Linked DNA regions of Homo sapiens. The protein of the gene in region 1 purifies or fractionates together with the protein of each later gene. This does not show direct contact. Each region holds a gene or a part of one and is shown in the gene's direction. Other genes may lie near its edges.

Region 1 (3,311 bases):
AAGCAGATTCCAGCTGAGGCCCAGGCACTGCCTTGCTGTGGTGAGCACGGCGGCTCTGCTCTTCCCCGCCGAGCTTTCTCATCAGTGAAGTGGGGTAGTGACAGCATGCGAGGGCACGGAGCTGTCAGCAGGCTCCAGAGACCATGGCCATAAAGCACTGACACTGACACGGCCTCAGCAAGCCCTTGGGGAAGGGCAGCCACCACCGTTGCTGCTGCTGTCACTTACTGTTGCTGTTGATTTAAGGCAGTACATACTCAGGTCTCATAGCTTGTAAAACAAAGGAAAAATGAAAAGTCACCATCATCCCAGCAAAATGTAAGGCTCCCCTGCTGCCCAGATTGGAATGTGCTCGGGAGGGCCCTGGCAGTCTGGGCTCCAGCAGGCCTGGGTGGGCCTGGGTGCCTGTGCGTCTCACCCACTCCCAGGGCGTGTGGATGCAACTCCTCAGGGTCACACTTTGAATAACAAGGAGCTAATGAGTAGCCTTCCCAAAAATGGGGGCCAAATCCCTCACCTTCCTGAGCCCTCCCACGGGGAGAGGGAGGGTCTTTTATGGAGCGTGGTGCTTCATGCTTCATCGTTCAGAAGGGAGCGTGGTATCCAGAAACAGGGAAAGCATTGCTGAGTAACGTGGCGGAGTGAGCAGGCTCCAGACAACGCATCCACCAAGAGTTCTTCCATGCGCTGGTGATTCCCCATCCAGCAGTAAATGTTGTTCATGTTTACAGATGATAGCTATGGAATACAGGCCTTTCGTGAGTGGCAAATTTCTTATTCTTTAAAAAAAAAAAAAGTTGGGTTCAGGATAAGCTAGGGAGAAAACTTTATGTGATCAGAACTAAGGCAAAAGAATGCTTGAAGTACTAGAAAATTAGCTCCAGTAGGCTGAGGACATAAAATTATGAAACAAATCGCCTGCCCTCGCGTGGGTGTGCATTTTACCAGTGCCAGTCCGAGGCGAGAGTGATGGAGTACCTGAAGATTTTTCAGAGGTTTGGGGTTTTTAAAAAATCATAACAAGACAGGACCGTATCACCCTGGAATAATGTGTAATTCGTGGTTGTGAGGCTTTAAAAAGCCGAGGCTTGAGCACATGGTAGCAGTATTACCATTATGCATGGATCCAGAATGATCAGAAAGAGCCAAAGGCATTTGTATTTTCTCCCTTCATCGTTTTACTTAGGTAGAAAATAATGTCTGAAAATGGCTCTGTAGTTCAAGGAACGGTGCCCAAACTCTGAATTCAGATGCGAGTAGAAATACTCCGTGGAGCAATATTATAAGATGTTAATACAACATTCCTAACAACTGTTTAAAGAGTCACTTGGTAGGCGGGCGTGGTGGCGTGTGCCTGTAATGCCAGCTACTGGGGAGACTGAGGCAGGGGAATCACTTGAACCCGGAAGGCGGAGGTTGCAGTGAGCCGAGATCGCACCTCTGCACTCCAGCCTGACAGACTCCCTCTAAAAAAAAAAAAAAAGCCGCTTGGCCATTGAAATGCTGTGTTCAGGTTGAAAAGTAAATACATGTGTATCTTATATAAAGTGTGTTAATTCTAAGTTGGTTTTCTAAATTACTATGATTTCATTATTGTAAGAGAGAAAAAAAGAGGGAAACTAAGTTTGAGGTCTTTTTAACTAAGGACAGTTGCCAAAAGCCATCTCCCTGTTCTTAATTGCTACCATTGATCAAGCTCAGTTTTAAAAAACACAAAAGGGCAGCCGGGTGCCGTGGCTCACACCTTTCATCCCAGCACTTTGGGAGGCCGAGGCAAGCAGATCACTTGAGGTCAGGAGTTCGAGACCAGCCTGGCCAACATGGTGAAACCCCATCTCTACTAAAAATACAAAAATTAGCTGGATGTGGTGGCGTGCGCCAGTAATCCCATGTACTCCAGAGGCTGAGGCGGAAGAATTGGTTGAACTTGGGAGGCGGAGGTTGCAGTGAGCCAAGATCGTACCACTGCACTTCAGCCTGGGCAACAGAGTGAGATTCTGTCTCAGACAGAGAGAGAGAGAGAGAGAGAGAGACACACACACACACACACACACACACACACACACACACACACAGTGAGATTCTGTCTCAGACAGAGACACACACACACACACACACACACACACGGAAAAAATGCATTTCAAAGGAAACTACTAGAAATGTTCATATTCCCTTTGACCATTTTGCTTTCGTGAGTTTTCTCTGTCACAGGTTTCCTGCCAAGTTAATTCAAAGCCCAGTGGGACTAACATGCTCCTCTCTGCAAAATATTCTCCAGAGCTTCTGGGAATACCTCATAGCTACTGCTACCAGGATACCAAAATATTTCCCAAATACACTTGCAGCTGGAAGCAAGATATAACATTTCCTCTCTAACTCCTTCTTGCCTGTGCTTTTCAAATAACCTCAGCTGTGAATGGAGGGCTTAGAAGTAAACAGTTGTCTCTTATTTGTTTGAAGGACCGAGTATCAGTTTTCACAGATGTGAATGCTTGCATTGCATGTGTGAAATGCACAGAAGGTCTTTATGTTCTGTTATAAATCACACTGCATGTATATGTTAGAAATTCAAGGCCTGAGAGGTCTTTCTTTAATGCTCAGTGCTGGGAGATGGCTGAAGTAATCAGGCTGCCTATTTTTAGTGCCACCTTTTGGATGCTTAGGAAATTGACATTTTAAAGTAAATTAAATGAACATAGTCCTACTTGTCATTTCTGCGATTAAATCAATTCCAACGCAGCTGTGTGACCGTAGAATGGTTTGTTTTATTATTGCTGATCAAAATAACTATTATGAGTAGCAGAATTCTAGTGCCTGGAAATCTAACAAGAGTAGTTTTGAGTTTAGAAGAATTAGCTCAACTGTCTTTAATATAAACTTCAAGGCCTTACACTTGAATAACAAATACCAAAGCAGTTTGACAGCTTTGAAAAAAAGTTAGTGGAATGTGCAAGATTTAGTTGGTGTTTATGCTGGCTGGACTTCACATACCCATATATACTCTGTGTTACTCATTTAAGTGCGCTTTTGTATACAGTTGTCACCATCAACATTGGCCCTTATTACTGAAATCTGTCAGCCTCATTTAAATTTTTGCAAATGTGATTTGGGAGATGTAAATATAAAAGTGAGCAGCTCTGTGCAGATACATTTTTGTGTGAGGCAGAAGTGCATGACTGGTGTCACATGCAGAGGGTGAAGGCTTTAGGAGTTACGGAACATCAAAAGCCTTCTTCAGAGTGACTGTCTGTCTCATGTGACTAGCATCGGTCAGTCAGACAGGGCACCCGGGACAATGGGCAGCCACACTG
Region 2 (3,650 bases), on another chromosome or scaffold:
CTCCCTTAGAGGATGTCAGCAGTTAATTTTTTTTTTAAATTAAAAAAAGTTCAATTCTGAGACCTCCTAGTTTCAAAAAATACATTAAACAATTCCCAAGAGTGTTAAGAGTGTCTGGGTGCTTAGAAATTCTTGCTTTGATTCATGTATTCTGATTTTTTTTTTTTTTTTGAGACGGAGTTTCGCTCTTGTTGCCCAGGCTGGAGTGCAGTGGCTCGATCTCAGCTCACCGCAACCTCTGCCTCCCAGGTTCAAGCGATTCTGCTGCCTCAGCCTCCCGAGTAGCTGGGATTACAGGCGCTTGCCACCACGCCTGGCTAATTTTTTATTTTTAGTAGAGACGGGGTTTCTTCATGTTGGTCAGGCTGGTCTCGAACTCCTGACCTCAGGTGATCTGCCCGTCTTGGCCTCCCAAAGGACTGGGATTACAGGCATGAGCCACCGTGCCCGGCCTCATTATCCTGATTTCTTTTTTTTCTTTTGAGACTGGGTCTCACTCTGCTGCCTAGGCTGGAGTGGAGTGACGTGATCATAGCTCACTGTATCCTCTAACTCTTGGGCTCAAGTGATCCTCCTGCCTTAGCTTCCTGGAGTAGCTGGGACTACAGGCACATGTCACCACACCTGCCTAATTTTTTTATTTTTACTTTTTGTAGAGATGGGGCCTCCATTTGTTGCCTAGGCTGGTCTTCAACCGGCCTCAAGCAGTCCTCCCACCTTGGCCTCACAGAGTGCTGGGATTATAGGCATGAGCCACCATTCTCGCCAGTATCCTTATTTCTTAACTTTAGAAAGTTTTTCTATTTTTAATATAGGTATTTAAAAAAATCTGAATTCAGAGTGCACCTCGATGTTATGCTGTTCTGAGATTAAATATACTAAAACTGTTACCATTGTTTTCTGAATTCTTAAGATGTGACTGATAGTTAGCTAATAGGTTAACACATTGTGGTGGTTCTTGGCCTCTGAACTGATAGTCCAGATGGGGAGAGGAGACCAGAAAGCATGTGAAAATGGACTAGAACCATGGGACAGCTATATAGTCTCTCGCAGCTGTCTTTTGTGTTCTCTGCTTCCACCAAATTGGTTGATTTATTTAGAATGCTGACCTCTTGCATTGCCTAAGTCCTTGATGTTTTTGGTTTCTCCTCTGAACTCTCAAAGGTACTCACTTCATGCTCTTGGTATAGCCCACTTATGTTTAACTTTCCTTTTATTATGTGTTCCCTCTTACACATGACATGGACATTTCTTTAATATGTAGAGTAAGATATTGGATTTCATCCTAAAGTCTTCAAAATAAAACTCTTGAGCTCATCATCTCAGACTTCTTCATGTACCCACAGACCAGGGATTTTGTTTGCTTTTTAAAACATTTTTTTATTTTGTGTTTTATTATTTTTAAATTTTAATTTAATTTTATGGAGACAGGGTCTCGCTCTGTTGCCCAGGCTGGAGTGCAGTGGTGTGATCTCGGCTCACTGCAGCCTTTGCCTGGGCTCAAGCCATCCACATGCCTTGGCCTCCCAGTGTGCTGGGATTACAGGTGTGAGCCACTGTGCCTGGCCTAAATTTATTTTTTTAATTTTTTTTGAGACAGGGTCTTGCTCTGTCGCTCAGGCTGGAGTGCAGTGTCATAATCATGGGTCACAGCAGCCTTGGCCTCCCAGGCTGAAGTGAACTTCCCACCTCAGCCTCCTGAGTAGTTGGGACTACAGGCGAGTGCCACCATGCCTGGCTCATTTTGGTTTTTTTTGTAAAGATGGGGTCTTGTCATGTTGCCCATGAAGGTCTCCAACTCCTGGTCCAAGTGATCCTCCCGCCTCCGCCTAGCAAAATGTTGGGATTACAGGTGTGAGCCACCATGCCTGGCCTTATTTATTTATTTAATTATGAATGAATGAATGAATTAATGAGAGGGAGTCTTGCTCTCTTGCCCAGGCTGGAGTGTGGTGGCACAATCTTGGCCCACTGCAACCTCCGTCTCCCAGGTTCGAGCAATTCTCCTGCCTCAGCCTCCCGAGTAACTGGGATTACAGGCGCCCGCCACCATGCCCAGGTAATTTTTGTATTTTTAGTAGAGATGGGGTCTCACCATGTTGGCCAGACTGGTTTCGAACTTCTGACCTCAAGTGATCTGCCCACCTTGGCTTCCCAAAGTGTCAGGATTACAGGCATGAGCCACCATGCCTGGCCTGGCCTTTTATGTTTTAAGTTGCTTCCACTGATTCTCTTGGGCTTTGCTCCCCTCCAGAACTGGCCATGGTTTAGGATGCTGTCCACCTGCTGCTGCTTGTCCATGAAAACGAGCCATAAACCCTTTTCTTTTGAAAGACTTAATTGTTTATCACTATGGAGAAAGAGGGGATGGCAAGAAGTAGCAAATACAGGGAATTTGCAGAACTTGGTCTTGAGCCCTGGGTCCAGAAACTTCTTCTGGAAGGTGCTTGGTGTTTGTCCAAGCTCATGATAGGTTTCTGTTGGCTGTACTGCCAGATCTGTAGATGCTTTTTTAAGGCTTGGATGACTTGTTCAAAACAATGTTTTGGAGTACAAATTTGGCTGTGGGGACATCAAGACCTTGTTGGGAAACTTGGGTTTAAGGTACAATTTCTTAAACTAGGATGGTGGGAATGGGGATGTGAAGGGAGAATGAATGTGAGAGGTATTACAGGGTAAGGATGGAGATGATTCAGATTCCTTAAGTGGATTTAATAATCACACTGTAGCTTTGAACTTGAGTGACTGGGGAAATATTTGTGGTGTTTTTGGAAATAAGGGCCAGAAGGACTATTGGTTTGGGTAAGAAGATAGTAGGGGGATGTATAGGTGGACCTGCTAGTGGGGAGCTGAGATTTGGAGGGCTGAGATGTAGTGCTCTTCACTGCCGTAGGGCAGTATCCTCTTGTATGTGCCATCCTCTAGTGCCCATTGTTCATCATGTCATAGTAAGCCCAAGATGTTCATGCCTTTTTTCAGCACTGCATTAGGGCTTATATCTGCTTCTCTTTCTCTCTCTCTCTCGCTCTCGCTCCCTCCCTCTCTCTCTCTTTCTGTTTTTTTTTTTTTTTTAGACGGAGTTTCACTTGTGTTGCCCAGGTTGGAGTGCAGTGGCGCGATCTTGGCTCATTGCAACCTCTGACTCCCGGGTTCAAGCAATTCTCCTGCCTCAGCCTCCCAAGTAGCTGGGATTACAGGCATGTGCCACCATGCCTAATTTTGTATCTTTAGTAGAGATGGGGTTTCTCCATGTTGGTCAGGCTGGTGTCAAACTCCCAACATCAGGTGATCTACCTGCCTCGGCCGCCCAAAGTGCTGGGATTACAGGCATGAGCCACCGCGCCCGGCCTCTCTCTGCTTATTTCTACACAGTGTTACCAATGAGATTGGTGTTACTGCTGGGCTCCAAAGCAATCAGACAGATTAAAGTAGATTGAATATGAAAGAATTTAGAGGCCTTTTTCCAAGTGATTTGTGCTCTATTTAATTTCTGTGCATTTGCAGATATAGCCCACAGTAATTCTTAGTGAACTAGAACCTTCAGGTTATTGAATTTTACTGATTTGGGTACTGACATGCGCTTTTAAGAAGACATTAGGTTTTCTATAGTGTAGATTGTACACTAACAATATAATTCATATTTAAGAATG
Region 3 (3,650 bases), on another chromosome or scaffold:
ATCGCGCAAGAGGGGCTGCTGTGCGGTGAGTGGGTGGCGGGCACGGGGGTATGGGGAAGGCAGAGATGGCTAGGGGGCACTGGGGATGGCTGGGGGCGCACCCTCAGTCAGCCACCGACCTGCATGTGTAAGACAGCAGTTCTGAGGAGTGTCACTGCGGCGGCCACGAGCCTCAGGTGTTGTCTGCCTGCCCAGTGTGGTCACCTGCTCAGGTGAGGGCAGGAGGCCATGGGGCGGGGCTTCGAGCTGCCTTCCAGAATGTGTTTCTAGAACAAGGCTGAAGCTCTCATGGCACTTATTGTTTCTAATCAAGTCCACCAGGGCCCCTGGGGCGGTGGCTCTGCATTGACGGGGCCCATGGCCGGGACTGGGTGCTGCGAGCACCCTGGAGCAGCTGGGGAGGGGACTGGAGCCTGAGGCTGTCCAGCTCGACCCCGCTCACCTTCCTCCTACCCCGTGCCCCTCTGCCCACCTGCTTGGGGGTGGACAGACCAGGTGGCCGCTGGCAATGCCACTGACTAGCCACACAGGCAGCAGAGGCCCTGTAGGGACCACAGTTGATCTAGACCTCTGGGGACTCGGAGAGCACACACCAGCTTCTAAAACGCAGGCAGGGACATGTGAGGTTTCTACATGTGCATTCCGTGTGTCATGTCACTTTGGGGGTGGTGACAGGGAAAGTGGAAGGAAACCAGCCCTCAGCATGGCCAAGTCCCCCGTTAGCTGAGCCCCAAACTAGAGATTGGAAGAAAGTCTTGATTGAAAAACCATTTCCCAGCCAGGCGCGTTGGCTCATGCCTATAATCCCAGCACTTTGGGAGGTCGAGGCGGGTGGATCACCTGAGGTCAGGAGTTCAAGACCAGCCTGGCCAACAGGGAGAAACCCCGTCTCTACTAAAAATACCAAAAAAAAAAAAAAAAGTAGCCGATGTAATGGTGCATGCCTGTAATCCCAGCTACTCGGGAGGCTGAGGCAAGAGAATTGCTTGAACCTGGGAGGTGGAGGTTGCAGTGAGCCGAGATCACGCCATTGCACTCCAGCCTGGGTGATAAGAGCAAAAACTCCATCTCAAAAAAAAAAAAAAGAAAAGAAAAGCATTTTCCAGATGAATCTGTCACGAAAGGTGACTTGGTGCCCATAATCGTTGGGCTCTCCCTGTCTCAGTCTCCCTGCTCCCCATGTTGGTGGAGAAACAAGCCCCTGCCTTTGGGGCTGGAAAGCAGGTCCATGGGCCCCGTTACAGAGGAGGGTGCCTCTCTTCCTGTGGGGGCTCCTACTGCAGACTTAGACCTTCCCGACTGCTGTGTGCACCCTCAAACTAAGCCCAGAGAAGACGCCTCTGACTCTGACTTCAGGGCTCCTAGGGACAGCTGGTGTCACTGTGAGCCTTGGTCTCTTGTTTATAAAGCAGAGCCCAGTGTGCAGTCAGGCAGCCTGCAGGCGTGGTGCTGGGGGCTCCGTCCTCGTAGCATCGCTGGCTCTAGGCTCAGGGCCAGGAGGTTTGCCAGGGGCCGCAGCCCCACTGCAGGCATTTCCCTGGCACCAGTGCCCACCCCAGCTCATTATGAAGCCCCGAGTGGACACAGAAACTCCATGGTGCACAAGGAAGAAGCCGATGCTCACGGAGAAGTGGGGTCCTCCCAGCCCCTCTCCCCGAGGCAACCCCTCTTGACGGATCCTTCGGAGTGTGTCTGACATGCTCCCATGCGTGCACGTGCACAATTCATGCATACGTGTGCACCCACGCACGCTCACCCTGGCGCGTCTGACTCGTGGCCCTCTCTGCAGGTGGCAGTGCTGGCAGCACGGTGGCGGTGGCCGTGAAGGCCGCGCAGGAGCTGCAGGAGGGCCAGCGCTGCGTGGTCATTCTGCCCGACTCAGTGCGGAACTACATGTAAGACACGGCTTCCCTCCCAGGTCCCTGCTCCTCTCCATCCTGCCACCCTTCCCTGGATGCCTCTCACGCCTCACCTGAGAACCGGCAGCCAGAACTGGGAGGGGAGGAGGCCAGCGGGGCCCTGTGAGCACCGCCTCCACTCTCCTGCCCACGTGCCCTCACGCTGTGGGGCTTCCCAGCCTCTTAATGCTGTGAAAATCAATGCACACTCGCAGTGACAGCCCTGACAGGAGGGGCATGAAAGACGGTGGCTCCCTCTCTGTCCCTCCTGTCCCTTCCTCTCTGGTGTCTGTCCCCCTCACTGCTCTGGGGTCCGTGAGCTCCAACGGGTAGCCCTGGCCACATGGACTGACGTCCTCTTGGGCCGGGCCCTGTGCCACCTCCTATCCACCCTGACTCCCTCTGCTGCTTCCCCCAAACTCCAGATTGGGACCGAGTGCTGCCCAGGTGGCCCCCTAGGACTTGCTGTGACTGTTTTGCCCAGAGGCCCCTCGGACAGTAACGCCACAGACCTCGCTGGTCACCGGGCAGCCAGGCTGAGACTGGCGCTGCTCTGCACCTGGTCTCCGGAGGCGGTACCAGGGCGGGTGTCTACAGACCCCCATGCCCTGTCCCCTGCACCTGCAGGGTTTCCTCCATGGCCTGCAAGCTGCAGCGGCTACACAGCTCCCGAGAGCTCAGCTGCCCTTGGAGGGCCAGGCCTGGCTGGTGGGTGCCCCCAGTTGGGTTCCCCAGTGTGGGGTGATTCACATCTGGTGCCCAGGGTCAAGATGCCCTGTGCAGGGCTCCTGCCCACCCCCGTCAGTGCAAGAACACCATCTCCCCACATACTTGGCCAGCCTGCCATGTGTACCTGTGCGTGTGAGTGTGTGAGGGGCAGAGAGCGAGCATGAGAGGACGTGTTTATCTGAGTGCCTGAGCGATGGCTGTGTGCATGCTCACACACGCTTGTTGGCCATGGGGGCGGGAAGTCCAGCCCCCAGGCTTCCCCCTGGGGCTTCCAGCCAGCACTTGGGGGTCTCTGCTGCACCAGTGAGGTCCAGGAGAGGGGCTGGGCAGGCAGTGCGTGCCACTCAGCAGGGGCGGGGGCCCGGTGGGGCCCTGCGGGGACTCGGTGACTCCCCCATCCCGCAGGACCAAGTTCCTGAGCGACAGGTGGATGCTGCAGAAGGGCTTTCTGAAGGAGGAGGACCTCACGGAGAAGAAGCCCTGGTAAGACCGCTCGGCCGGAGACCCGCTGCCTGTGCTGGCCCTGCCCAGTGTGACAGGCAGGAGAGCACTCCCCCGTGGCCTGTGCTGGCCCTGCCCAGTGTGACAGGCAGGAGAGCGGTCCCCGTGGCCTGTGCTGGCCCTGCCCAGTGTGACAGGCAGGAGAGCGGTCCCTGTGGCCTCCTGCTGAGGTGCTGCCGGCGGGGGTGCGAGAGCGTTTGTCCTTATCCTGATCCCCCCGACCTGCCCTCTTCCCTCAGGTGGTGGCACCTCCGTGTTCAGGAGCTGGGCCTGTCAGCCCCGCTGACCGTGCTCCCGACCATCACCTGTGGGCACACCATCGAGATCCTCCGGGAGAAGGGCTTCGACCAGGCGCCCGTGGTGGATGAGGCGGGGTCAGTCTCAGCCCCTGCTCAGAGCTCAGTCCTGGGTTCTGTCTGCCCAGCTCCACCCCGTCAGTGTCACTGGACAGGGCAGCCATGCAGACCCTGCAGCTGGGCTGATAGGCCCGCCTGGGCCGCCTCATACAGACGTTCAGGGCAT

The links.
Region 2: the proteins of RTF2 (region 1) and TENT4B purify together in Homo sapiens (affinity purification with mass spectrometry, with the first as the bait; one large-scale study listed by BioGRID). This does not show direct contact.
Region 3: the proteins of RTF2 (region 1) and CBS fractionate together in Homo sapiens (co-fractionation; one large-scale study listed by BioGRID). This does not show direct contact.

The regions. Positions count from the first base shown.
Region 1 is NC_000020.11:56,513,568-56,516,878, forward strand, and holds part of RTF2 (replication termination factor 2), read left to right. Parts: intron 1-228; exon of another isoform or gene 229-270; intron 271-517; exon of another isoform or gene 518-738; intron 739-3,311. UniProt on the Homo sapiens protein: Replication termination factor which is a component of the elongating replisome. Required for ATR pathway signaling upon DNA damage and has a positive activity during DNA replication.
Region 2 is NC_000016.10:50,156,191-50,159,840, forward strand, and holds part of TENT4B (terminal nucleotidyltransferase 4B), read left to right. Parts: intron 1-3,650. UniProt on the Homo sapiens protein: Terminal nucleotidyltransferase that catalyzes preferentially the transfer of ATP and GTP on RNA 3' poly(A) tail creating a heterogeneous 3' poly(A) tail leading to mRNAs stabilization by protecting mRNAs from active deadenylation.
Region 3 is NC_000021.9:43,058,686-43,062,335, reverse strand, and holds part of CBS (cystathionine beta-synthase), read left to right. Parts: coding exon 1-25; intron 26-1,789; coding exon 1,790-1,895; intron 1,896-3,032; coding exon 3,033-3,110; intron 3,111-3,367; coding exon 3,368-3,502; intron 3,503-3,650. UniProt on the Homo sapiens protein: Hydro-lyase catalyzing the first step of the transsulfuration pathway, where the hydroxyl group of L-serine is displaced by L-homocysteine in a beta-replacement reaction to form L-cystathionine, the precursor of L-cysteine.